Linked DNA regions of Homo sapiens. The protein of the gene in region 3 purifies or fractionates together with the protein of the main gene of each other region. This does not show direct contact. Each region holds a gene or a part of one and is shown on either strand. Other genes may lie near its edges.

Region 1 (4,301 bases), 250 kb from region 3:
AGGGAAAAGGAGGAACAGGACAAGATACCAGCCCTGCGGCTTTGCACGGCGCCCACAGGACAGCTCAGCAGAGTGGCCAGTGCCACTGATCCGGCCCCTGCACAGGGAGAACTGCTCCGCCCACCATGCAGGCCCTGTGAGGTCAGGATGAGTGCAGGTGCCTTGTGGGCCCAGTTCTGCAGCTAGCTGATGGTCAGCAGGAGGGGTCTGCAGCTGCGACCTGGGGAACAGTGCTGACCCACGCCCCTGCCGCCTGCCACGGCCTCATTGAGCTGCATTGTTAGTGGTGTCAGAGATGAGCTGTCTCTCACAGACCTGGGTCCCCTATACCATGCAGCTTGAGAGGTTGCTCCAGATCCCCTGGGATCGCTGGCAGGGGTAAGAGACCAGCTCAGGAGGGGCCGCTCTGTCTGAGGGTCCAGATGGCCTGTGGGGTTCCCCACATCTGGACACTGGGTGGGGCGCACCTTGGGGGATGCACAGAGACCCCACAGTCGGAGGACCACGCAGTGGGGCGGCCACCCCGAGGTGCTGGCTAGCGGGTCCTGGGACCACACACTCCTGAGCGTGCTGAGAGCCCCAGGCCCAGGAGGTGAACACGAGTGCTGTGAGTGCCACTCAGCACAGCCTCTGATGGGGCTGAGACAGGTCACCATCCCTGCAGCCCTGCACAGTGCCCACAGGACAGCTCAGCAGGCTGGCCAGAGCCCTACCCACCTGGCCTGTCCTGCAGGCAGCAAAGCAGCCCAGGGAAGCAAAGCAAAACCTGATACACCCGTTTATCTAAAAGAGCCGTCTTAACAAACGTTAATAAAATGGGCTCTGCACCTATTTCAGCCACGAGCTTCCATGGAGGGGCCAAACTCTCCATGCTTCTTTCCCTAAACACCAACACCGTGAGAGCCGATGTCTTGTGACTATTTCTGGAGACTGGGGCGGCCGCCCACAGAGGCCTATTTGCAGTGAGGAGCAGATGGCGGTGGGCGCCCTGGGGAGCTGCCTGTGGCCAGCCCAGCCTTCACAGGATGCGTCTCACCACAGCCTCTCCAGTCCTGTGAGGTAGAGAAGAAGCTCCTGGACATCCTGGAGTCACTGCCCAGGGAGGCTCTGGGTCACGGGGGTGGGGACAGGCCTGGGCGTCCTGCCTCCCGCCCACAGCAGCCGACTGCCTGTCCTTTCATGTTTCTGCCACACTTGGTCTGGGCTTTGCGTTCAAGAAGCCCATTCCAAGTGCAGTGCCTGGCTCAGAGGACAGACCAGGTCATCCCTCCCAGCCCCGCATGGCTTCAGGCCCACTGCACTTCCCTGCTCTGCCGCCTGAGGCAAGGGCCAGCTTCTCTGCAGCACAAGGGCCTGCAGCACCCCACGTGCTCAGCACACAGTGGGCATTGACTATTTTAACCCAGGGAAACATTTTGTACACAAAGTTGGAAAAAAATGACAAGTGCAGACTTTGTATTACTGGGCAGTTTGAGCATCCCTTAATCTGCGGCACATGTGGATGAGACCATGTGGCCTCGGCCCAACCTCGGCCGATTCTCCTGTTGTGGGGGGACTCACCCTGACTCTAAGCATCTGAGGGTGAGAGATTTCCTGATAAGGAGAGATGATGAATTCTGGGTGGAGTGAAACTCCAGAAAAGCCTTCATAGGTGGTAAACCCAAAAATATTTAAATATAAGAGAGATTGCTAGATAATTCTAGAAAGTACTTTTAAAAATATTCCTGATTCTAAGAAGGGTGGAGAGTTTTGAAGGAGGCCCAAATGACTTCTCACTCTTAAGGGTTTCAGCTTCAGGAACAGGCAGCCTGTAACATTCTACAAGGCAGACGCGTGTCTCCATGAAGTTACACCTGAGGCTTTAGTTCCATTCCATTCAGTAAACATATCCTAAGCACCTATTCTATACAGGCACTGGCCTTGACATCCAAAATTAAAACTCTGAAAACAGCACATTCAGCTCTGTGTCCGTAGGATTTAATCCAGTGATTTTCATTGCACTTTCATTAAAAAAAATTCAACCCTCAGGCAAGACAACAGTGACTGTAAGATATGCGTTAGAGGTGTGTGTTTTAAAACATCCCCAGGGTTGTGTGGGGACAGTGGTTTGTAGGGTAACCTGTGGTTATGAACAAGGAGGCTCTTGGTGGGGTGTGTTCATTCTGAGCTGGGCGTTCTTGCCACAACTGCAGGCAGGGGATGCTCTGGAGATGGAGGTGAGCCCAGAGCCTGACCCACCCAACTCCCTCTGCCCTGACCAGGGGTTGGCCAAGCTGTCAGGAGCAGGGCATTCTTGGGGGCTGGCCTGGACACACTCTGCTGCCCGTGTCCACAGAAACCCCCTGAGAGGCCACAGCCTCGGGGCCACCACTGCCCAGAGAATGGAAGACGCTTTGCAGCTGGCCCACCATGACCAAAACGGCTGGTGCCAGGAGCAGGGAGGTTGTTGTTACTTCCAACACAGGTTTCCTTGGGGCTGGGGAGTTTACCCTCCGTCGTTCAGCAACATGACTGACCGCCTACCGCTGTGCCCACTGTGAGACCAAGCAAGACCACCAGCTCTCGCTTCAGTTGTTTGGTTAGTGGGTGACCTGCCTGTAATATATTTCATTGTTAGAATTTCTACTTGTGTTTTTGGAAGTCCACCTGTCCTTATTTCATAATGTCCTGTTCTTGCCTAATAGATTCCATTCCATTGTCTCTGAACATTTTAAACTTGTTACTTCAAGCACCTGGCACCACTCCTGCAGGTCTCGGCGTGAGTTCAGCTTCTTGCTGGGCCTGCTGGGTCCTCATGGATTTAATTTCTTCCTGTGATTTGCCCTTTTTGTCCATGATCTCACTTCTGGGAGAGGCTGACCCTGAACACATGCGCACACGGGGGACAAAGACTCTGGCCCCAGGCGTGGGGGGCTCAGGGTTAGGGACATACTCAAGTAGAGGTGTAAGATGAGCAGCTCTGACCACCCAGCCTTGGGGGGATCGGGGGCTTAGGGTGGGGGACATACTCAGGTAGATGTGGAAGATGAGCAGCTGGCCCAGGTGCACCAAGCCAAGAAAGTCCAGCAGGAGCACGAGCATCCCGATGATCACGACTATCAGGGTCTGCACCTGCACCGGGAACAGGGGGAGGAACAGCAGCCACGTGTTCATATTCTTGACATCTGGGGAGACAAGGGAGAGCCACTGTGTCCAGCACCTGCTGACGGGTGCCACATCAGGTGGACGTCACAGACCAGAGCGTGCTGGGGATGGGGCGGTGTGGGGACAGCCAGTGCGAGGGATGTCTCCCTGCCCAGGTGGACGCCTCCCTTACCTGAGTGCCCCGTAGGCCCTGCTGCCTTCGGTTGGTTTTCATGATCCCTGCTTTATGGATCTGGGAGGTGAGGCTCCAACATTGTCACTAAGTGCCGGGGTCACAGTGCCCACCCCTTCCTAAGTGCTGGGGTCACAGCGCCCACCCCTTGCTCACTAAGAGCCAGGGTCACAGCGCCCACCCCTTCCTAAGTGCCGGGGTCACAGCGCCCACCCCCCTTCCTCACTAAGTGCCGGGGTCACAGTGCCCACCCCTTCCTCACTAAGTGCCGGGGTCACAGTGCCCACCCCTTCCTCACTAAGTGCCAGGGTCACAGCACCCATCCCTTCCTTATTTAGTGCCAGGGTCACAGTGCCCACCCCTTCCTAAGTGCCGGGGTCACAGCACCCACCCCTTCCTAAGTGCTGGGGTCACAGTGCCTGCCGGCTCTGCCGGGCCCCAGCACCCATCCTTTCCTAAGTGCCAGGGCCCCAGCACCCACCCCTTCCTTACTAAGTGCCAGGGTCACAGTGCCCACCCCTTCCTTACTAAGTGCCGGGGTCACAGTGCCCACCCCTTCCTCACTAAGTGCCAGGGTCACAGTGCCCACCCCTTCCTCACTAAGTGCCGGGGTCACAGTGCCCACCCCTTCCTCACTAAGTGCCGGGGTCACAGTGCCCACCCCTTCCTCACTAAGTGCCAGGGTCACAGCACCCATCCCTTCCTTATTTAGTGCCAGGGTCACGGTGCCCACCCCTTCCTAAGTGCCGGGGTCACAGAGCCTGCCAGCTCTGCCAGGCCCCAGCACCCATCCCTTGCTCATGGCCCACTCTGTGTCCCTGGACCCGCTGCACCCTAAAACAGCTGCCTTCAAATAGAACAGGAAAGCCACAGCTCTCGCCTGGGGTCATTTCTAAGATATGGTCCTCTGTGACACTGGGCTGCCAACACTCAAAACCACACTTCCAAAAATCAGGCGTAATGCAGAATGGCAGAGGGCCAGGCA
Region 2 (4,301 bases), on a different chromosome or scaffold from region 3:
CAGGATGAGAACATTCCCTTCTATTCCTCTTATCATTATCAAATATCCTTCTTTGTCTGTGGTAAGAATTCTTGTCTTAATGTCTAGGAATAGAAGGGAATGTCCTCATCCTGACTAAGGGCATCTATGAGAAACCCAAAGCTAACTTTTTAAAGTGTTTTTATCGTGAAAGAGTGTTAGTTGTTGCCAAATGCTTTTTCTGTGTCTGTTGAGCTATGTTTTCTCCCCATTATTCTATTAATTTGGTGTATTACATTGATTTTCATATATTGAACCAACTTTGCATTCCTGAAATAAATCCCACTTGGTTATATTGTAAAAGTCTTTGTATGTACTAGTGGCTTGAGTTTATTAGTATTCTGCTGAGGATTTTGTGTCTGTATTCATAACACACATTGGTCTGTAGCTTTCTTGGGTTGTCTTTACACTGGTCTCATACAAGCGGTTGGGAAGTGTTCCCTTCTCCAATTTGTTGTTGAGAGTTTATGAAGGATTTGTGTTATTTTTTTTTAAATGCTTGGTAGACTTCTCTAGTGAAGCCATCTGGTGTTAAGCTTTTCTTTGTGGGAAGTTTTTTGATTACTAATTCAATCTCTTTATCTGTAGATCTATTAATATTTTTTATTTCTTCACGAGTCAGTATTACTAGTTTGTGTTTCTAGGAATTTGTACATTTCATCTAGGTTTTCTAATTTTTTTAGCTTTATTTATTTTTTAACGTTTAGGTTCAGGGGTACATGTGCAGGTTTGTTATAAATTAGGTATCATGGGGGTTTGGTGTACAGATGATTTTGTCACCCAGGTAATAAACATAGTACCTAATAAGTAGTTTTTTGGATTTTGTTTGTTTGTTTTTGTTTTTTTTCTGAGACAGGGTCTTGTTCTGCCACCCAGGCTGGAGTGCAGTGGTGCAATCTCGGCTCACTGCAACCTCCGCCTCCCACGCTCAAGCGCCACCTGCCTCAGCCTCCTGAGTAGCTGGGACTACAGGTACACTCCACCATGACTGGCTAATTTTTGTATTTTTTGTAGAGGGTTTCACCATCTTGCCTAAGCTGGTCTTCAACTCCTGAGCTCAAGCAATCTGCTTGCCTCGGCCTCCCAAAGTGCTGGGATTACAGGCATGAGCCACTGCATCTGGCCAGATAGGTAGTTTTTTTGATCCTCTTTCTCCTCTCACCCTCTGTTCTCAAGTAGGCCCTGGTGTCTGTTGTTCCCTTCTTTATATGCATGTGTACCCAATGTTTGGCTCTCACTTATAAGTGAAACATGGTATTGGGTTTCTGTTTCTGCATTAGGTTGTTTAGGATTATGGCCTCCAGTTCCATCCATGTTGCTGCAGATGACATGATCTTGTTTTTTCATGGCTGCATAGTGTTCCATGGGCATATGTACTACATATTCTTTATTCAGTCTTCTGTTGACAGGCATTAGGCTGATTTTGTGTCTTTGCTATTGTGAATAGTGCTGCGATGAACATACCTGTGCGTGTGTCTTTATGGTAGAATGATGTATATTTCTTTGGGTATACACCCAATAATGGGATTGCTGGGTTGAATGGTACTTCTGTTTTAAGTTCTTTGAGAAATCACCTCCACTGCTTTCCACAATGGCTGAACTAATTTACATTCCCACAAGCAGTGTATAAGCATTCCCTTTTGTCTACAACCTCACCAGCATCTGTTATTTTTTGACTTTTTAATAATAGCCATTCTGACTGGTGGCTTTTCCAATTTGTTGGCTTACAGTTAATCATATATTCTCTTATAGTTATGTTTAGTTTTGGTTGTAATGTTTCCTCTTTCATTCCTAATTTAACTATTTGAGTCTTCTGTCTTTTTTTCTTCATCAGTCTACATAAAGGATTGTCAGTTTTGTCGATCTCTTCAAGGACCCAACTTTTGGTTTTGCTGGCCTTTTTTTTTTTTTATTTTTTTTTACAATTCTCTTTCATTTATTACCAGTCTAATCTATATTAATTCCTGCCTTCTACTTTTTTGGGTTTAGTTTGCTCCTCTTTATCTTAAGGTGGAAAATTGATTTATTAATTTGTTCATTTCTTTTTAAAGAAATTGATAGTTATAGCTATAAACTTCCCTCTAAGCACTACATTAACACATGCCATGATTTTTTGGCATGTTGTATTTTCATTTTCATTCATCTCAAAGAAATTTCTAATTTATCTTGTGATTTTTGTCTTTGACCCATTACTTATTTAAGAGTATGGGCTGGGGCATGGTGGCTCATGCCTGTAATCCTAGCACTTTGGGAGGCCGAGGTGAGCAGATCACTTGAGCTCAGGAGTTTGAGACCAGCCTGAGCAACACAGTGATATCCCATCTCTACAAAACTTTAAAAAATAATTTAGCTGGGCATGGTGGCACACACCTGTAGTCCCAGCTACTTGGGGGGCTGAGAAGGGAGGATTACATGAGCCCCAGAGGTCTAAGCTGCAGTGAGCTGTGATCATGCCATTGCACTCCAGCCTGGGTGCCAGAATAAGACCCTATCTCAAAAAAAAAAAAAAAAGTTGTTTAATTTCCGCATATTTATAAATTTCCTAAATGTCCTTCTGTTATTGATTTCTAATTTTATTTTGTTGTGGTTGGAAAACATATTTTGTATGATTTCAGTCTTAAATTATTGAAGTTATTTTTCCTAAGATAGATCAAGCCTGCAAAATGTTCCATGTGCACTTGATAAGATTGAGTATTCTGCTATTGTTGCGCGGAGTGTTTTGTATAGATGTGTTTGATCTAATTGGTTTATAATGTTGTTGAAGTCCTCTTTCTTTTGTTGAAATTCTGTCAAATTGTATTATCAATTGTTGGAAGTGAGGTATGTCCAACTATTATTATTGAATTGTCTTTTTCTTCCTTCAGTTCTGCCACTTTTATGTATTTGGGGGCTTTGTTGTTAGGCATATGTACGTTTGTAATTGTTATAGCTTCTTGATAGATTGACCCTTTTATCATTATCAAATATCCTTCTTTGTCTGTAGTAAGAATTCTTGTTTTTATGTCTGTTTTGCCTGATATTATTAATAGTATTAAAGCCACTCCAGTTATCTTTTGGTTATTGTTTGCATGGTATATTTATTTAAATCCTTTTACTTCCAACCTATCCATTTATACTTAATGTAATAATTGATAAGATGGGATTTATGTCTGCCATTTTGCTATTTGTTTTCTGTCTGTCTAATGTCTTTTTTCCCTGTTTCCCCATTACTGCATTGTTTTGTACTAAGTAGATCTTTCCTAGTGTATCACTTTTATTCACTTGTTATTTCTTTTATATTTTTTTTTCTTAGCAGTTGCCCTGAGGATTACAATCAGCACCTTGGTTTATAATAATCGTGTTTGGATCAATAACAACTTAATTCCAACTTGATTTATGTGGTTGTCTTTAAATTGGATAAGAGTAAAAAGAGTTACTAACAAAAATGTGTTTATACTTAAAAAAAAAAATCTGTCTAGGTGGTTACCTTTGCCGATGCTCTTCCTTCCTCTGTGTGGATTCTAGCTAGTGTCTAGGATCCTAATTCGGCCTTAAAGACTCCCTTTCGTGTTTCCTTTAGGGCAGGTGTGCTGGGGACGAATGCTCTGTGTCTGTTTATCTGAAAATCTCTTAATTTCTCCTTTACTTTGAAAAGATAATTTTGCTAGTTAAGAATTCTTAGGTGACAGCTTTTGTTCTTTGAGCACTTTGATGCCATCCTGTTGCCTTCTGGCTTCTATTTCTGATGAAAAATGAGCTGTTAATCTTATAGAGCAGTGGTCCCCAACCTTTTTGCCACCAGAGACTGGTTTTGTTGAAGACAATTTTTCGATGGACTGGGGCGGAGGGGAGGCACTGGTTTGGGGATGAAACTGTTCCACCTCTTCATTAGGCATTAGATTCTCATAAGGAGCACACAACCTAGATCCCCTGCGTGCGCAGTTCACAATACGGTTTGAGCTCCTATGAGGATCTGATGCTGCCGGTGATCTGACAGGAGAGGGAACCTGATCAGGCAGTGATGCTCGCCGGGAGCCGCTCACCTTCTGCTGTGTGGCCCAGTTCCCAACGGGGGTTGGGGACCCCTGCTCTAAAGGATCTCTTGTACATCATGAGTTGCTGCTCTCTTCCTGCTTCTAAGATTCTTGGCAGGTCTTGGTGTGCTCTCTCGGAGTTTACTCTACTTGGAATTCGTGGAGCTCTATGGATGTGGAAATTAATGTTTTATGAAATCAGGAAAGTTTTTGCCCATTATTTTTCAAATATCTTTCTGCCTTCCCCCTTTTCAACATTTATATTGTTAT
Region 3 (4,301 bases):
TGAGGCTTCCAAGGGAAGGGACACCCTGTGTTTTGATGACATCACCTCCAGTTTGGAAGGACCTTGGGCACTTTCAGGGGTCGCTGTCATAGGGGAAGGGGTGGGAACCAGGACACGCATGCCTGGTGCCCGGGAGCCTCCAGGTCCTGTTTCCTAGCCACTCCATTGAGATGGAGAGCCCTGGAGTTGGGGGCTGGCATTCGGCGGGAGCCGGGTCATAGACCCTGACTTGGGAGTGTTGCGATGCCGGCAGGCTGTTGGAAAACTCTCCTCAGATGGCTGCCTGTCTTTTTGCAGACAATGCTGACCGCCATTTCCATGAGTGCGATCGCTACCAACGGTGTGGTCCCAGGTAAGGGGTGCCCGCCAGCCGCGGCCCTGAGTCCTGTTAGAGGAGTCTGTGTTTTGCCGCACGGCAACCGCGAGGAGGCCGCTTGGCGAGGCCGGGCCGGGGGCTGCCTGGGGGTCTCAGCCGGGCCTTCTGCGTGTTCTCCACTGGCTCCTCTGGCGTTTGAGCCGTGAGGTCACGGCTGTTTGGTTTTCTTCCCCATTTTGCTGCGTGGTGACCGTCTCTTGCCAGGGTAGGCAGTGCCCACCAGGCAGCGGGCTGGGGAGGGGGAGGCACGGGCGATTCCAGTGGCTCCTGTAGCCCAGCGTGTGCCATAGGCTGAGTTCTTGGAACCTGTATCTCACGAGGGAAGGTGAAGACAAAACACTGCCCTGACCTTGTTAATTAGTAATAAGTTAATTACAATACATAATAACTAAATAACTAGTGAACCGAGATGATATTAATTAGTAATAAGTTAATTACAATACGTAATAACTAGTAAACTGAGATGATACTGTTAATTAGTAATAAACGAATTACGATACGAAATAACTAGTGAACGGAGACGCTGCCACGTCTGCTTCTGAGTGCATGTGTGCTGCGCGTGTTAACGGCTGGGCTTGCTCAGCACCAGGTCCTCACGCAGCTGGTCCCCATCCCCACGGGGGCATCGCTTGGTGCTCAGCGGACTTCCCCGGCCTCAGGAGAGCACGAGGGCCTTCACCAGGGGTCTCCCTCCGCAGCCAAGGGACCAGTCTCTGCTTCACGATGGCCGCGTCCATTAGGACCCCTTCCACATGCCACACGCACTGCTCAGAGCAGGGAGAGCTGTGTTCTCCAGGCAGCCCTGGGGTTGCGCCCGGCTTTCCCGCCAGTGATAGCGTGCGTGGTTCACAGTACACGAGACGACTCCTGAACATCCTAGTTTCTCTTTTGCCTTTTTCATAAGCAAAACTTAGTGGAAGTGGGGGCTGGGGCTGCCACTGATGTACGCGGGACTTTTTCTGGGACCTGCTGGGGCCTCCTGCTCCCCAGAGAGCCTTATCCCTGATCTCACCTGGTCCTCATGTCCATGAGAGCGCGTGCTCTTGGTGTGGAACGTGTGCCGAGCCTCGGGAGGGGAGAGTTCACCGTGGAAGCGTCTCCATGTGCTGCTTTGCGGGTGGACGAGGGTCTACACGCTGCCTTCGCAGAGACAGGCCCTCCTTTGCCCGTGAATGGCAGCGCAGACCGCACCTCGGGTCCGAGTCCAAGTGCGCCCCTGACCCGCGGCTGCCGCCTTTGTCTCCGCAGCTGGCGGGTCCTACTACATGATATCGCGCTCGCTGGGACCCGAGTTTGGAGGCGCTGTCGGCCTCTGCTTCTACCTGGGCACGACGTTTGCAGGGGCCATGTATATTTTGGGGACCATCGAGATTTTTCTGGTAAGTGTGCTGCTTTGGAAGGGTTCCCACCCCACAGTCTGTGGCAGGATGCCAAGGGGCCCTGCCTGACCCACTCTGTGGCACACACAGCACACTGAGCCATCCTGACCCCACTGCCCTGGCTGCCCCTGGGCTCTCCTGGGCTCTGGCCATGGCGGAAGCCACTGGGCAGCGTCCACTCAGCAGCGACCTGTGTCCCCCTTGAGCACCATTGCTGCCCTCCGTGAGGCGTGCCTGGCATGAGCTGGGTAGACATCTGGACTGTAGATCTGAGCCCCGCGTAGGTGCAGTCCTGCAGTCGGAGCTGTTTTAGGAGCAGGGCTGGAACTCGGCTTAGAAGAACCTTTTGCCAGGATCCCAGCCTCTTCTCTGCCTGATCTGGGCACTTGGCCGAGGGTCCCAGAGCCCAGCAATGTACAACCAGGTGATGTCATCACCTTCTCAAAACAGGCATGCTCAAAGCATGTCCCACATCACCTGAGCACAGCTGAGAGCTGTGGCCTGAGTTCCTTGGTCCTCGTGGGGACGGGAACCGCCCTTCTCTGGCCGACGGGTGCTGTCCTTCCTGCTGAGGTTCTGAAACCCGCTGTCCCTGCAGGGCTTCAGAGACGCTCACCTGAGCCCCTGTCCCCAGTCTTTCTGCCCCTCCCTCTGCTGCCAGACCTGGTTCCTGGCCTCCTGGGTTCCTGAAGAGAGCCACATGGCCAAGAAGGTTCTGAAACCTTTCAGTGGGGTCGCACCCACACCCGTCCCAACCCGAGTCCCCTGGCCATGTCCCTCCATCTTTCCACCTGCCCCGGGTGCCGTGGCTGCCGCACTCCCAGGATCCCCTTTGGTGGGGGTGGGTGCCATGCCCTCCATGCCTGCTGCACCCCAGTCCTGTCCTGGTCTTGAGGGAGCTGAGCAGCACTGTCTCACGTCTCCGTCCCTTCCCTTGAATCTGGGCAGAACAGAGGTTGCCCCCCGCCGGCGTGGTCAGACCCTGTGTGTGTCCAGGACGTCCAGCCGGGGTGGGCCGAGCTCTCTGGGCAGCAGTCACATTCCTCTTAGCAGAAGGTGTTTCTTTTGAGTGCGGACATGCGGATGCCCCGGGTCCTGAAGTTGCTTTACTCTAAGGCTCCCGGGTGGTTCCTGGGAAACGTTCAGGCCCCTGGCTGTCCATGGCCTGTGCGCTGACCCCCGCGGGCTCCGTCCCTCGCCTGTGCGCTGACCCCCGCGGGCTCCGTCCCTCGCCTGTGCGCTGACCCCCGCGGGCTCCGTCCCTTGCCTGTGCGCTGACCCCCGCGGGCTCCGTCCAGCACGGATGCGTCCCGATGGCCCCGGCACCTGTTGGGAGGAGGCCCCTGTGTGGCGCTGGGGGCTTGCGGGAGGGACGGGCACTGGGGAGTTGTGTCCGGGGACGGCCTCCCGACCGGCCTTGTTCCCACAGACGTACATCTCCCCGGGTGCGGCCATCTTCCAGGCGGAGGCTGCAGGTGGCGAGGCGGCCGCCATGCTGCACAACATGCGTGTGTACGGCACGTGCACGCTCGTGCTCATGGCCCTGGTGGTCTTCGTGGGCGTCAAGTATGTCAACAAGCTGGCGCTGGTCTTCCTGGCCTGCGTCGTGCTGTCCATCCTGGCCATCTATGCCGGCGTCATCAAGTCTGCCTTCGACCCCCCGGACATCCCGTGAGTCTCGGGGCCTCTGAGCCGTGGGTGGGTGTGGGGCTGGGGCCAGGTCCCATGGGCTCTGCCCGCCTCTCGTCCATCATCCTTGACGCCGAGCTCCCCGCAAGGGGTGGGCTGGGTGTGACCGTGGCGGGAACCCCCGTGGGCTCGTTCTGGGGATTACAGGAAACCCAACGGTGAGGTGGGCCGAGGTACCCTCGTGGCCGGGTCTGAGCATGAAGACCCTCCTCAGTGGCAGGAGGGCTGGTGAGGGGTCTGGCAGGTTTCAGGGGTGGCCGGTGGCCCTGAGCACGGTCAGGTGCAGTGAGCGTCATGGGTGTGGCCCTGGCTGCTGCTGGGGCCTGGGTGTCTTCTCCCTCCCAGAGGTGCTTGGAGGGGCTCTTTTCTTGTCCTTTTGGAGGAGCAGCTGGGAGGCGGCCCAGGGTCCTGGAACATGGGAGTGGCCACCAGAGCCCGCAGGGAGCAGGTCCAGAAAGGGCCAGCAGCCAAGCCCCTTGAGGCTCCCGCGGTTTTGCCGTCTCTGCGTGGAGGGAGCCCCTGAAGGAACAGCCTCATAGAGGCCTCAAAACAGAGGGAGGCAGAACAGCTGCAACCCCACAAGCCCGTTTTAGGGAAGCACAGCTGCCCTCCCCCTCGGGGACCCGTCCTGAGACCCCCTGCCGATGCTTGACGCTACGGCCCTGTGTAGACTGTTTTCCACGTACAGGCCTGGCTTATACGTCGGGGGCGGCACTCCTGTGCTCTTGGCCGTTGGCACGTGGCACGAGGGTGGCTTGAACTCAGACACTGAGATTGTGACAGCTGACCCGGCCAGGACGCCGCCGAGGGCCTCGGGGAGGGAGCGGCTGCAGCGTGGCTGTGCTGGCGCGGGGGGA
Region 4 (4,301 bases), about 140 Mb from region 3:
CGGACGGCACGCTCAAGTACATGGAGGTGACGCTGCGGCCCACAGACTCGCAGAGCCACTGCTACAGGACGTGCTTTTCACCGGCCTCGGACGGCAGTGACTTCACTTTTCTAAGACCCCTCAGCGTTCAGCAGCCCACAGCTCTGGCGCTGGAGCCTGACGCCATCCGGTCCCGCTCTAATACGCTGCGGGAGCGGAGCCAGGTGAGGGGCTCGGCGCCGCCCCGGGCGACCCCTGGGGGCGGCACTGGAGAAGCCGCCCGTCCTCATAAGGGATTGAACTTGCATCCACTCCTCTCCGGCCGGCTTGGTCGCTGGCTGCGCTCCACCCGATTCTCGGGATCATTGGACCGTTTGCGCGAAACCAGAGTGGCCGATTAAGGGATGGGGCTCCGAGCACCGGGGGTGGTGGCGACTGTGGGCGAGGGGAGGTGGGACCGACCCCCACCCCTACACTCAAAAAAGGCCGGGGCCTCCTTCGAGCTTCCGGTGAATTTCGGGCGATTTCCGCGGGTGTCGGGGGTCCCGGGAGGAGGCAGTCACAGATCCACCCCTGCAGCCAGCCTCCTAGGCGCCGGCTCCGGCACGCTTCGCCGGTCTGTAGATTTCCTCTTCGATTTCTCCCCAGCTCCCAGCATCTGTGACTTCACTGTTACCCTCCCTATCCCCGCATCACCCAACCGCACCTGTCTGCGGGACTTAGGTGTGCGCGCGGGGCTCATGCGTGTCCTCCCTGCTGGCCACCCCCACGGCCCACACAAGTTGCACGGGCTCGCCACGCCCCGCCAACACGTGCGCGGACGCACGCACGCACTCCTCGCACGTGGGCTTACGCGAATACCAGCTTTCACTGCCACTCGCTCGCGGCCAGATTCACAGGCCTGTTCCGGTCCACTCGCAGCTCCCCTCTGCCGCTCCCTCCGCCGGGCTCAGGAGTACTCGTAGCTGATTGTGCGCGCCTGAGGGTCCCAGATCGCGGCCGCCCAGGACCAGGCGAGGACTCCGGAGCCTCCTCTCACCTCTCCCACCTGCGCCCCGGGCTGGGCCGGGTCGCCTGGGGGGCGGCCTGAGCGAGGCGCGGGGCCAGGAGCGCTGGAGCGACTGCCGCTCTAAGTGCCGGGCGGGCAGGACTCTACGATCCTTGGGCCAGAGGTCCGGATGGTCCCGGGACTCCGTCTCAAGGGTCGGCGACCCCTCAACCCAGAAGCCTCGAGCAGGCGGACAGGCAGAGCTGCCCAGTGGCCGAGGCGCGGCAGGGCTCCGCGTTGGGCGAGTGAGTGAGCCTCTATAGGACAGCAGGACTGGGACTCCAGTGGCACCAGCGGCCCCTTCCTCCCGCAGGAAGTGAAAGCCTCGAGCGCCCTGGCTCTCAACCCCCAGAGATACAGGCTTTTGGCGCCGTCGTGATCACAATGTGCCCAGCGATCTAGGGTCAGAGATTTGGAGGTGACCAAACTATCTGACACTCTAACAAGTCCTGTCTCCTCTGGCAGATGGAAAGCTATAGGCTCTGCCAGATGCCAGGGTGCCCTTATGTGTGAGGAAACTACAATAGTAAAAAACACAAGTTTCTCCAACTCCAGGAGCTTTTATTCAAAATATATCAATGCCTAACTCTGCTCCTAGGACTGTATTTTGAAACACCCCCAGGTGATTTTGATAGCTGATTGAGAGAAACTTACTATATAACTCCTTTGAGAACCTCATCTCATTTGCTCTTCCCACCATTGCTGTTGGCTAGGTACTAACATGCCTCTCTTATAACAGCTTCACAGAGGTCAAGTGACTTGCTCAAGTTCACAGAGCAAGTAAGAGAGATTCTAACCCCTGTCTAACTCCAGAATGTGTGCTTTTAATTTCTTGGCACTTGGAACTTTAAAAGCTTGAGGACAGGAGAGGGGAGTTGCCTCTGCTGGGATTTTGCTTCTGCTGGGATGGGGCAAGGGTGGGGTTCCTTCCCTTTTAGGACCTTACATGTGGGGAAAGTCTTCTGTGGCTCCTCATTTCTGAGCAGTCCCCGCAGCGCAAACTTGGCCAGTTATCCTTTTGGAGATTGAGTTCCCCCAGCTCCGTTTCCTCCTATCACAATCACTGCATTTCCATGTAGATTCTGCTGTGTCTAAGAATACAGTGGCTGAGGGCTGGCCATCCCTGTGCCCTTCTCCATGGCAGCCCCAGAATGGTGCTGGTGACTCCCGATACACCTGGAATGCTAGGTTTCTGGGTTCTGCTCATATCACTGCCACCTGTGAGCCTTGAGTGAGCCACTGGCAGTTCCGGAGCTTCCTTCTCCCTGGAGTAATCTGAGATACTCACACTCTCTGCTTCTGGGAGCAAGTATGAGTATTAATTACCAGCCCACCCCAGAACCAGTGAGGAGGTGGCTCTAGGAGTGCTCCATGAGAGTGTGTGATGGGATAACACACCCCCTGGAAAGACCAGAAGGGACTCAGGAATGAAGTGGCTGGCCAGAGCCCCACACCTTCAGCTAGGTGGGAGATGGCTACACATCAGCCCCTTGGGAGCCCTGGAGACTTAGTTGGCCCTGCTTGGAGGCTGTGGGAGCTGGATCCCTCCCCGCTGCATCCCTTCCATTTTTCTCCGTCTCAGACAGAGCAGCCTTGTTCTCTTCTCCTTAGTCACAGACCATTGTCTGGCACGGAGTTCTAGGGGTGAGAAGTGTCCCGGGACTTGGATGCCCCGCAAAGGCCCAATCTGGCATGACTCCTAAATTAATAATGTATTTAGCTGTGGGAAGAGATTCTTGCAAGCCAAGGGCCCAGAGAAGATGTCCCTGTGAATGTGTCACTGCACAACCTGGCACCAAAAGGGTTACCAAGAACAGCAGCCATCTTGCTGCAGAGGATGCTTTGTTCCCAGCTGAGGAGTTGAATAAATTCATTCTAGGGCTGGTAGAATTCTCATTGAAAAGCCTCCTTTGCCACTTTAGGGGGCTTTGTCTGCACCTCTTCCCCCAGTTCCACAGAAGATGCCTTCAGTCCTTGAATTTTGGCTCAGGAGTTCTGACTCTGGGGGCAGGGAGGAAGGGGCCATTTCTTTAGGAAAGGAGTCTCAGCTTGCTCACTGTGGTCAGATGAAATGTGATTTATCTCTTGGTTTCTGGTACCTCAGACCTCTGAGACCTGAGGTGTATTTTGTCTTTGGAGATGAGTCCACCCCTGCCCCCTCTTAGTCCGTTTTCTTCTCTGTGCCCACTCCCCTCCTTCTCTCCCGGCCCATCCCTAGGGGCTCGGGTGACATTCTAACTTCTCACGGGTACTCAGCCCCTTTCCCTCTGTTTTCTCCACAGCAAGCCCCGCCCAACACGGACTGGCGTTTCTCTCAGGCCCAGAGACCCGGCACCAGCGGGTAGGTGACTGATTCTCCAGCCCACCCTCTTCTCTGCGGCATTTTCTCAGGGATGACGTGGGAGGAGATGGGGGAGGGCCCAGCATTTGCTACAGATGGCTTCTCCCTCAGTTTGAGATCCCAGGGAGGTCTTGGTGTGCGGGGGGCTGGCACACAGACCCCGGAAGGAAGAGGCGACTGCCCTGACTGTTCAGGAAGCTCAATTCACATGCTTGCCCCTTCCCTCCTCGCCACGACCGGCACCTTTTCCTATCCCCTGAGGGCACTGTGGAACCAAAGGATGGTCTTAAGCTGGTCTCTGGGTGAAAGCGAGGCTTTCTATGCCCATGTACTGCCTAACCCCCTCCCCTGAGTTGAGCTGGGCTCCATTATGACCTGGGGCTCAGGCAGAAAAGCATTTGACCGGAGGAGGCGGTCCGCACTCAGCGCCTCCTCCAGAGCCTCCAGAGCCGAGGCTGACTGCAGCCTGGGGAGAGTGGAGGCAGCACAGCTGGAGGTGGAACTGAGGAAGGACTGGGCGGGGCATGGAGCAGGCCCCCTTCTCCGGCCCCTCCTCCCACTGTCCTCTGCCCCTACTTGTCCTGCTCTCTGTCTGTGGGGTCTCCGTGTCTCTGCCCCTTTTTCTTGAGTTTCCGTCTTTGCCACTTTCTCTTACCTCTCAGTCCTTCCCTCAGTCTCTATCTCGCTTTGCAATCTCTGCCTCTCCCTCTCTTCTCCATCTCTGTCTTAGCTTCCGTCTTGATTGCTGCACCTCAGCCTCAGTCCCTTTCATTTGTCTACTTGCATTGATCTGTGCCGCCCACTGTGCCTGCCATGGCATAAGTGCTCAATAAATGTGGAGTGAGTAACTACACGGGACCCTTAGTCTCTTTCTCCTTCTCTATCTCTGCCTCCCTGTCCTTGTCCTGGACCTCTTTTCTGTTTCTCCTTTCA
Region 5 (4,143 bases), on a different chromosome or scaffold from region 3:
CTACAGGCACGTGCCACTATGCCCAGCTTTCCCACTTTTTACAGAGTAGAGCAGCTGCCCTAAGCATTCCAGCCTTGGGTTGAGCCAGCCTTTTAGCCCTAGATGTGTCTGTTGGTAACATGGTGTCATCTAACCCAGCTGTTCCCATGCTGCACTGATCATCCGAATCACCTGCCAAGCTCAAGAAGTAAAACACACATTCCGAGGACCTCCCTCAGATTTACTGAGTGAGAACCTCCAGGGGTGGGACCTGGAGATCCACTTTTTGAAAAAGCTTATCAAGTGGTTCTGATGACAGCCACCTTTGGGAAACACTGATTTAAGCAGGATTTGTAATGAGAATTAGAATCCCTTTTGGTGATGCTTGTTGGCCAAAGTACAACAAACCCCTCAACAGACACTGTTGCTGGGTTTTGGGGGGAAAATTAGAGGTAACCAAAATGGGGTGGCCAAGCAACGCTGTGCAAGTTCTGGACCTGAGAGGAGATCTGGGAAGAACTCAGCGAACTCAGCACTCCACCCAGAGCCCCCAGCCTGTGCGAGGACGGTGCGGTGAGAGTGGGGTGGAGGGAGCTTATGGGCTCTCCTGGGCCCCTCACCTGGATGGGAAAGATCCCGGGGACGATGGGGCAAGTGATGCCCATGTCGGTGCATGCCTTCACAAAGCGGAAGAATGTGTCAGCCTCAAAGAAAAGCTGCGTGATGATGAAATCGGCTCCCGCAGACACCTTCTCCTTCAAGTGCTTCAGGTCAGCCTCAAAGCTCCCTGCTTCGGGGTGGCCTTTGGGGTAACCTGCCAATAGGGATGACAGTCAGGAGAGGCTGGCCTCCACCTGTTCAAGGCGAGGGATGAAGAGACCACAGGGACTGGGCAGAGAGAGTCCTCTGCTTTGGGGGCTCTGATCTTGCACCTTCCAACAGCACAGCACAGCCTGAACTAAAACAGTGAGTGGCTGGGCTCATGACTGATATGCTTCTGACCCCAGAGATGACTCTCAGGGGAGGTGGCTCAGAGCCCAGTTCCAAGAGTGGGGGTGGATTGCTCCAAACTCCCACACTGTCCTGCCTTGAGCAGCCAAGCAAATCAGGCCTGCACTTGGTGGCCATAGAAAAGAGAAAATGCTACAGTTAGCACTGGCTGGGCAGCATCTGGGGTAGTAAGCTTGACTTTTCTCTAGGCACCGGATTAAACATTGTTTTTAATGTAACACTGAAATTACTCAGGGGTCCAAGATAGTGAAAAGCTAAAAACCAAGTTACACAAGGAAGAACTGAAGAAAGTGATGTTTTCTTCAAAGAAAATAATGGATGGCAGGGTGCGGTGGCTCATGTCTGTAATCCCAGCACTTTGGGAGGCCAAGGCAGGAGGATGACCTGAGGTCAGGAGTTCGAGACCAGCCTGGCCAACATGGTAAAACCCCGTCTCTACCAAAAATACAAAAATTAGCCAGGTGTGGTGGTGTATGCCTGTAATAGCTACTCAGGAGGCTGAGTCAGGAAAATTGCTTGAACCCACGAGACAGAGGTTGCAGTGAGCCGAGATCGTACCATTGCACTCTAGCCTGGGCAACGAGAGCGAAACTCCGTCTCAAAAAAAAAAAAAAAAAAAAGAATGAAAAGAATACAGAAACTCCTTTCAAATGTCCAAAGGTCTGTCCTGGGGAAAAAGGATCCACCATAGGTGAGTTTGTTTTGTTTTGTTTCAGAGACAGGGTCTTGCTCTGTCACCCAGGCTAGAGTGCAGTGATACAATCATGGCTCACTGTAGCCTTGAACTCCCGGGCACAAGTGATCTCCCACTTCAGTCTCCTGAGTAGCTTGGACTACAGATGCAAGCCACCACATCTGGCTAATTAAAAAAAATTTTTTTAATTAATTATTTATTTTTTAGAGATGGGGTCTTGCTATCTTGTCCAGGTTTGTCTGGAACTTCTGGGCTCAAGCAATCCTCCCACCTTGGCCTCCCAAAGTGCTGAGATTACAGGCATGAGCCACTGTACCCAGCCCCCTAGTGAAGTTCTTTATTAGTCATATTCTGTGTTGTTTCTAATGGCAGAACCAGCATCCGGTTCAGAGAGCTGGCTAGAGTACTATAAGCCACTCACAAAACAATGAGCTCCTGGAGTCTGAAAACACAGGGGCAGTGGATGCTGAAGACAAGATTCCAGAATTGCTTAGGAGGTGGGATCAGATGTCCCATAGGCTCCTTACTGGCTCTGTGAACTCTCTGACCCCTTTCCTCAATGACTAAACTTACTAGCCGCCTTGCTCGGTCAGGCAAGCAGGATGACCATAGGCCTTCATGAAACTACATGGAGTGCTGGTTTCATCAGCCCAAGCCCAGGGCAGGACTCTGAGCCAGGCGGAAGGCCAAGCTGCTTTGCTCTGATAAGGCAGTTCCGTTCTTAAGAAACCCAGAGTCATCAAAAAATGAATATAAAAACTATTGTTTCAAGGGGTAAGGGAGTGGGGGATAAAGCAATGGGGCTTCACACTTGCAATAACAAAGCTATTTTCCCAGTAGGAATTTCAGAAACAACAAGGCTTTTTAATAGCTGAAAAGTATAGCTACAATACCTAAATATCACCGAACAAATCTAGCATTTGATTACGTATAGATTTTGCTATTTACTCTATTTTTCTATCATGAACAGCTGAGGGCTTTCTTTTTTAAAATGTTTTTATTTTTTGTAGAGACACGGTCTCACTGTGTTGCCCAGGCTGGTCTTGATCTCCTGCCTCAGTCTCCCAAAGCTCTGGGATTACAGGCATGAGCTACCATGCCCAACAGGTTGGTGTTTTCTAATCCACTCATCTTCATTACCCACTTGATAAGCAAAGTAAGAAACCATTCAGCAACTGTGAGCTCACAGCTTCACTAGTTTCCAATCATTATCACCTAACGCCCATCACGGGTGCATATTCCCCCAGTAACTGACTATATAATGGCTGATACAAGCGATGACAATTTAACAGTTGGAAATGTCTGTTCTCTGACTCCTAATCAGTGCTTCCCAGACTTAGCACCTAAACACCCCTGTTGACAGAATGGACATGTCCATCGGGGGTTAGGGACAAGGCCAAAGTTACTCACAACATGTAATTTTCTTGAAGCCACGTGGTTTGTTTTTTGGGTTTTTTGTTTTGTTTTTTTTGAGACGGAGTCTGGCTCTGTTGCCCAGGCTACAGTGCATTGGTGCGATCTCGGCTCACTGCAAGCTCCGCCTCCTGGGTTCAAGCGATTCTCCTGCCTCAGCCTACCAAGTAGCTGGGACTACAGGCACGCGCCACCATGCCCGGCTAATTTTTGTATTTTTAGTAGAGACGGGGTTTCACTATGTTGGACAGGATGGTCTCAAACTCCTGATCTCATGATCCACCCGCCTTGGCCTCCCAAAGTGCTGGGATTATAGGCTTCAGCCACCGCACCTGGCCTTTTTTTTTTAGTTCATATCACTTTAGATGCTACTCCATAACATAGCCATGTTTAATATAAAAATGGTAGGATTTCTCCCAGAATATTGGCAAAAAAACTGTCATCCCAGAAAATGTGCCAATCCCGGGACTTCCTGTCCCTGGTGCACACTGTCTTGCCATACCTGAGCGCTGTCTGAGACGCTGAGGGCTCAATGCCAGCCTTCAGCTTCAAGGGTGGGAGAGAAGTCCAACCCACCCATTTCTGTTGGGGGAACCTGGTCTTGTGGCTGTGGCCAATGGTGATTCTCTTTCCTGGGAATTTGGAACGGAGGCCTGTCCATTAGCCTGGGGAACTGGCTGGAACTGACACTCTGCACACTCAGGAGCAGGCCAGGTGTGTGGAAAAGCATGGGTATCAGGTCTCCCAGATGAAGCACAGATGTGCAGTGGGAAGCGGAGATGGGGGACCCTGTGGCCCCAGAGGGAATGAGGGAGGGCCTTGCTTTTTGACCTCTTCCAGTGCCTTGTGAGGTCTGAGGCCATCTCCTGATCTTGGGTTCCCTGCCCTCTGGAATCCTGTTAGTAAATATCCCTCTTTTGTGGGGTGTTGTTTTTTTTTTTTTTTTGAGATGGAGTCTTGCTCTGCCACTGAGGCTGGACTGCAGCGGCACCATCTCGGCTCACTGCAACCTCCGCCTCTTGGGTCCAAGAGATTCTCCTGGCTCA

What was found.
Region 1: the proteins of SLC12A7 (region 3) and ZDHHC11 purify together in Homo sapiens (co-immunoprecipitation; one large-scale study listed by IntAct). This does not show direct contact.
Region 2: the proteins of SLC12A7 (region 3) and SLC41A3 purify together in Homo sapiens (co-immunoprecipitation; one large-scale study listed by IntAct). This does not show direct contact.
Region 4: the proteins of SLC12A7 (region 3) and PCDHGB5 purify together in Homo sapiens (co-immunoprecipitation; one large-scale study listed by IntAct). This does not show direct contact.
Region 5: the proteins of SLC12A7 (region 3) and MTHFR purify together in Homo sapiens (affinity purification with mass spectrometry; one large-scale study listed by BioGRID and IntAct). This does not show direct contact.

The regions. Positions count from the first base shown.
Region 1 is NC_000005.10:837,487-841,787, forward strand, and holds part of ZDHHC11 (palmitoyltransferase ZDHHC11), read right to left. Parts: exon of another isoform or gene 4,207-4,301; coding exon of another isoform or gene 4,197-4,206; exon of another isoform or gene 3,359-4,196; coding exon of another isoform or gene 3,317-3,358; intron 3,165-3,316; coding exon 3,009-3,164; coding exon of another isoform or gene 2,933-3,008; exon of another isoform or gene 2,862-2,932; coding exon of another isoform or gene 2,733-2,861; exon of another isoform or gene 2,596-2,732; coding exon of another isoform or gene 2,486-2,595; exon of another isoform or gene 1,956-2,485; intron 1,053-1,955; coding exon of another isoform or gene 1,019-1,052; exon of another isoform or gene 1-1,018. UniProt on the Homo sapiens protein: Endoplasmic reticulum-localized palmitoyltransferase that could catalyze the addition of palmitate onto various protein substrates and be involved in a variety of cellular processes.
Region 2 is NC_000003.12:126,070,001-126,074,301, reverse strand, and holds part of SLC41A3 (solute carrier family 41 member 3), read left to right. Parts: intron 1-4,301. UniProt on the Homo sapiens protein: Na(+)/Mg(2+) ion exchanger that acts as a predominant Mg(2+) efflux system at the mitochondrial inner membrane.
Region 3 is NC_000005.10:1,084,357-1,088,657, reverse strand, and holds part of SLC12A7 (solute carrier family 12 member 7), read left to right. Parts: intron 1-297; coding exon 298-352; intron 353-1,624; coding exon 1,625-1,755; intron 1,756-3,184; coding exon 3,185-3,426; intron 3,427-4,301. UniProt on the Homo sapiens protein: Mediates electroneutral potassium-chloride cotransport when activated by cell swelling. May mediate K(+) uptake into Deiters' cells in the cochlea and contribute to K(+) recycling in the inner ear.
Region 4 is NC_000005.10:141,491,498-141,495,798, forward strand, and holds part of PCDHGB5 (protocadherin gamma-B5 isoform 1 precursor), read left to right. Parts: coding exon of another isoform or gene 1-380; intron 381-3,309; coding exon 3,310-3,368; intron 3,369-4,301. Other genes in the region: PCDHGA1 (protocadherin gamma-A1 isoform 1 precursor), read left to right, coding at 3,310-3,368; PCDHGA2 (protocadherin gamma-A2 isoform 1 precursor), read left to right, coding at 3,310-3,368; PCDHGA3 (protocadherin gamma-A3 isoform 1 precursor), read left to right, coding at 3,310-3,368; PCDHGB1 (protocadherin gamma-B1 isoform 1 precursor), read left to right, coding at 3,310-3,368; PCDHGA4 (protocadherin gamma-A4 isoform 1 precursor), read left to right, coding at 3,310-3,368; PCDHGB2 (protocadherin gamma-B2 isoform 1 precursor), read left to right, coding at 3,310-3,368; PCDHGA5 (protocadherin gamma-A5 isoform 1 precursor), read left to right, coding at 3,310-3,368; PCDHGB3 (protocadherin gamma-B3 isoform 1 precursor), read left to right, coding at 3,310-3,368; PCDHGA6 (protocadherin gamma-A6 isoform 1 precursor), read left to right, coding at 3,310-3,368; PCDHGA7 (protocadherin gamma-A7 isoform 1 precursor), read left to right, coding at 3,310-3,368; and 11 more. UniProt on the Homo sapiens protein: Potential calcium-dependent cell-adhesion protein. May be involved in the establishment and maintenance of specific neuronal connections in the brain.
Region 5 is NC_000001.11:11,795,607-11,799,749, forward strand, and holds part of MTHFR (methylenetetrahydrofolate reductase (NADPH)), read right to left. Parts: intron 794-4,143; coding exon 600-793; intron 1-599. UniProt on the Homo sapiens protein: Catalyzes the conversion of 5,10-methylenetetrahydrofolate to 5-methyltetrahydrofolate, a cosubstrate for homocysteine remethylation to methionine. Represents a key regulatory connection between the folate and methionine cycles.